2 separate regions of the Homo sapiens genome follow, and region 2 is linked to region 1. Evidence: fine-mapped QTL for protein levels in blood plasma. Region 1 holds a variant in brackets. A gene starts in the other region. All regions are shown on their reverse strands.

Evidence for each region. PIP is the posterior inclusion probability: the model's chance that the variant is causal. Protein levels are from antibody-based Olink assays in UK Biobank. Linkage for the fine-mapping came from a reference panel and not from the study's own genotypes, which makes the PIPs less certain.
Region 2: it holds the start of LTBR, and the variant in region 1 is fine-mapped to the plasma level of the LTBR protein (UK Biobank, PIP 0.99).

The regions. Positions count from the first base shown.
Region 1 is chr19:806,762-809,261 of GRCh38, reverse strand. It overlaps PTBP1 (polypyrimidine tract binding protein 1), which reads right to left. Exons shown (of 15, transcript NM_002819.5): 11 at 1,360-1,393; 12 at 810-902; 13 at 500-716. Among named protein-coding and RNA genes, the nearest start is that of MIR4745, 3.1 kb to the right of the region's middle. The variant C/G (reference allele first, on the strand shown) is at 1,820.
Region 2 is chr12:6,381,877-6,384,376 of GRCh38, reverse strand. LTBR (lymphotoxin beta receptor) reads right to left here and starts at 215. Exons shown (of 10, transcript NM_002342.3): 1 at 1-215. The coding sequence starts at 18. RefSeq lists an enhancer at 297-1,162.

The DNA of each region.
Region 1 (2,500 bases):
GCCGAAGCAGGCGGATCACAAGGTCAGGAGATCAAGATCAGCCTGGCCAATATGGTGAAACCCCGTCTCTACTAAAAATACAAAAATTAGCCAGGTGTGGTTGTGGGTGCCTACAGTCCCAGCTACTCGGGAAGCTGAGGTGGCACAATCACTTGAACCCAAGAGGCGGAGGTTGCAGTGAACCGAGATCGTTCCACTGTACTCCAGCCTGGGTGACAAAGCAAGACTTCGCCTCAAAAAATATAAATAAATAAATGTGTGCATTATACATTCTCACAGGGAGCATCCCCTGAGCCAAAACCTCCAAAGTGTCCAACGACCCCCTCCCTTGAGCAGCCCTCGGCTCAAGCTCCAGGCCTTGCAGTACTTCAGGTTTGGGGTAAGAGGTGCCCGACCTGCACTCTGGAAACGCCAGAAGTCCACACACCGACGCGGTAGGACAGCCAAGCAGAGCCCTTGCCCGCCCCCGGCCCCATGAGCCCCCCGGCCCAGCACTCACGGGATGTTGGAGAGGTGCAGCGTGGCCGAGGGCGGGAATATGTTCTGGAAGTTCTTGGAGCCCGGCTTCTTGAAGCGGTGCAGGGGTGAGTTGCCGTAGTCCTTGGTCAGGCCCTGGTCCTCCTGGCCCTCGCGGGGCAGCTGCACGTTCTGGTGCTTCGAGAGCGTGATGCGGATGGGCTTCCCGTGCAGCTTGTGCCCGTTCAGGTGGCTCATGGCTGGGGGAGCAGCACCCGCGTGACCAGGCGCCCGAGAGGGAACGCAGCCCCCGCCCCTGCCCCCTCCACCCCGGGGCCGCCCCGGCCTCTTACCCAGCTGGGCCTGGTTGCCGTCCGCCATCTGCACTAGGGCGTTCTCCTTCTTATTGAACAGGATCTTCACGCGCTGCACGTCACCGTAGACGCCTTCAAAAGCCCAGGGATGGGGCCTGAGTCTCCTGCTGCCTGCCCCGCCCATCTCCCCGTCAGCCCCGGCCCCGCGCACCCCCACAAGGCCCGGCTCAGCCCGGCCGGGTTTGCTTTATCGGCCACTGCGGAGCTGCGTCTCGCAGCCACAGGGCGCGCTAACAGGAGCAGCTCCGTTCAGCAAAGTCATAGCATCCAGGACAGGTAAGCTGCCAGCGGGTGGCCACGGTGGCATATGCCACCGACAGGTCTAACTCTGAAAAGCATGCAGGGCGATAAACCATGCGTACGTATCTACGGGACCAAATAAAATTCGCAAACCGAAAGCAAACCATAAAACGAGGCGGATGCCACGGAGCATCAGAGTGCCAAACCGCAAACTCATAATACGTCTCAGGGCATCAAAATCATCTCAATTAATGAAAACAAGGTAATAAAAGTGTGAACGATAACATACCGAAAAGAATAAAGAGGCTTTGGGGTGTGACTCTCTTTAGAGACAGCAGAGCAAGGCAGCGGAGGGACAGGGGAGAGGGAGAGGTCAAGGGGGGCGAGTTGCCAATCGTCCACACGAGGAAGACAGTCCCCGCAGGCGTGCAGTGGTTGATGGATGATGAAGTTGTCAGGATGTTAATATTCAAGGGCAGGTTGGTTTCCGGAGAGCAGGGTTTGAGGGGGAATTTTTGTTTTTTATTTGTTTATGTTTTTGTTTTGTTTCAAGCAACAACAGGAAGCAGAAGTACCGTGCAGTCAGTTGGCAAAGAAATTCCGGATCAGGGCAAGAAAAAAAATAGGGAAAGGGGAAGGGGAGAAAAGAAAAAAAGTAGCAAAAAAACACAGGTCAGTAAATACATAAGAATCAGGTAGTGTTCTATCAGTCACACTCCACACACATTCCAGTTACAGGTTTACCTCGA[C/G]GGGCACACGGTAAGAGAAGCACCTTCACTCACATGCCGGCAGAGACAGCGCTGCTGGAGGGGCTCCCAGAAGCCGATCCCAACCACGCCCCCCAGGAGCGCGCGTGCAGCTCCGCTCGCGGCCACCTCAGCCAAGCCCTGCAGCAGCGCTGTCTCCCGCAGCTGTGGCACAAGTCAGTCTCTAAGGACGATTACAGGCGTGAAGGGAGATCGAGTCTGTTAGTGCACGGCCTCGCTCAGGAGGAGCTGGAGGGACAGCACCCGGCTCGTGGTAAGAGGCACAGGCAGGGAGTGCGTCCTGGGCCCCCGCGAGGGAGGGCCAGGCTGGGCACCGCCTTGAGGAAGTCACAGGAGTTGCCGGGAAACAGAACAGCCTGAAATGCTGATTCCAGGAGGATCCCATCCATCAAGAGTTACATATTTTGGGCCTCTTGTTTCACCCAAGCTCTCCCCGAGGGGAATTTAACCATTCTGGGAAATAACGGATCCACCAGTTAAGTGACAGGCTCTCGAGCCACAGGGGCTGCCCACACCCCGCCGCGCTAACCCTGTGTGTCCCGCTGACCAGCAGGGCGGCCTGCTGGGGCTCTGAACTGCGCGCCCTGCTCAGCTCCAAGTAATTTTTAGATTGCCTTTGGGTAACCAAAAAATAATTCATTCTGCGTATCATGCAAGAGAAAA
Region 2 (2,500 bases), not on the chromosome of region 1:
GGCCCAAGGCAGGAGCATGGCGGCCACTCGGCCAGGCGGCCAGCAACGTGGGGGCCTGGGAGGAAGGCAGGAGGCCCGACGTCCTGGGCAGCGGTGGCGGCGGCTGCCCGAGCCCAGAGCCTGGGACGGGACTCAGGGCCGATGTGCACCCCAGGGCCGGGAGCGGCCAGGCCGGGCCTCCAGGGCTCCCATGGCGGAGCTCAGGAAGTGGGAGTGGAGCGAGCTGGCCGCGGGGCGGGGACAGGGAGCGCTGGGAGCCAGGCCGGCCTGTCGCAATCGCAGCCCAGGGAAGAGGAACAGGCTTGTCTGCCTCGATGCGGGGCGGGAGGGGCGGCCGGGAAAGCACGTGAGGGCCGCGGGGCCGGAACCGGCCTCCTCCCTTCTTCGGAAGCCCGATCGGGAGAGCGGACTGCGGACAGCCCTGGCCCAGCCGAGGGAAGGGCGGCGGGCCCGGGGTCAGCCCTTGGACAAGCCTCGCAGGGAGAGCAGAGGGAGTTCCAGAGAGCGCAAGGGACAGCTGGGTGCGGGATCTGGAAAGCGAGGGGCCCAGGACGGGCAGTCATGGAGAGGGCAGGGCGCGGGGACTGCAAGGCCGCAGAAGCAGCTCTGAGACCGAGGAGAACCGGCTGGCAGATGCCCGGGTTCCTCCCCCGTTGTCCTGCCCTACTGTGGGAGTTTTTCAGACAAATTACAAGGGACTAGCAAATCAGCCAGCCCCCCACGCTACCAACCCAGCCCAATCCGCACAGGAGTGGGCACAGGTCACCTAGGAGACCCTTGAGAGCTGTGCAGCTTGCCCTGCTCCCTGTCCTCAGGGAACCTCCCTCCCAAAGAGAGGGGGAGGATATGCGGAGGGGAGTCCTGGGGCCAGCAGGCTGGACCTGGGCACTCAGTCCCTCTGCTCTGGCTTCTTTGCCCATGAACCTTCAAACCCCTTAGAACTGGAGAAAGCTGAGAGCCCACGCAGTCCAGCCCCCTCACCTTAAGCATGGAGAGGGAGGCTAAGGGTGATACATAAGGGAACCGGGATTCCAGGGTGGCCTGGTCTCGTTCCTGCCCTGTTTCATCCTCCCATCTCCCTCAACCCAACACCCCACCCACCCGTGGAGTTACTTGCAGCTGCCCCCTTTTACACGTGGTTCTCTGGTCCCCAAGTTTCCGTCTTCCTAACTCCCACCTGTCCTTGAGGCTTCACTGAGGCTCTGGAAGGCAACCTCTGCCCTAGGTTGCACAGTCCCCGTGAAGACTGCCCTCTGTACCTGGCTGTCTTGTTTGCTTCCCACCAGGCTGTGAGTGCCACCATGGCCCAGGCTGAATCTTCAAGTCTGTGTTCCCCATGCTTAGCAGAGTCTGGCACATACCATGTGCCCAATAGGTATTTATGGAATAAATGAGTGATGGCCACATCACAGAGCCAGTCCACCGCAGAGCCAGCTACAATCTGGGTCTCCTGATGTCTAGGTCCCAACTCATTCCAGCAGTCCTGCCAACTCCTTGTGGCTCAGGGATGTCTCCCTTGGGATGAGGGGCTAACCTCTCTTGAGATAGGTCACTTGGGCACTATCCCCCTCCCTGAAGGACTCTGTTCAGCACTCGTCCTTACACTGGTCTGTCTAACTTCAGGTCTGATGTCTGGACAGGTGCAGGTGATGGGAAGTGTGCATGGGGAGGAGAGGTCACAAAAGGGGGAAAGGACCTGCCTAGGCTGTAGGCATTTCACTCTGTGAGGCTCTCTCCCCTCACCTGGTGCAGGCAGCTCACCGTACAGATGGGCCAAAGATGGCTGGAAAGGGCAGAAGTATCAGAACAGCATGCACTGCGCGGGGCTGCTGAGCCTTCCAGGGCCCTAGCGCTGGGGGCTGGGATGAGAGTCCCTGCTGAGCTCTTAAACGCGTAAAGGAATGTGTGTGTAGCGACCCTAGGTCCTTTTTTCTCTCTCTTCTTTTTACTTTTTACTGTGGAAATTCCACATGCAAGATAATATACCAAAAGAGAAAAAGTAATATTGGGAGTCTCCCATATACTCCTTACCCAGCTTCAACTCACTGTCAGTTTCATTTATTCTGTATACCCCCTCCCCCACCAACGCACACACTCTTCAAATCCCTCATTATTATTTTGAAGTAAATCCCAGACATCATATCATTTCATTTGAAAATATTTCAGGATTTTACCCTAAAAGACAGGGACTCTTTCTCTATTCTATTTTTCTTTTTTTCCCCACCCTGTCTTATGCTGCTGAGACCCTTTCTTTTAATAGAGGTGTAACATATAATACAATGAAACCGTAAGGTACACTGATCTTACAGATACAGCTCAGAGAGTCTTCACTTTTGTGTATTCTTGCATATCCCCCAACTGGTCCAGAACACCTCTTCTCTTCTCTTCTTTTCTCTTTTCCTTTCCATACAGAGTCTCGCTTTGTCGCCCAGGCTGGAGTGCAGTGGTGCAATCTCGGCTCACTACAACCTCTGCCTCCCAGGTTCAAACAATTCTCTGC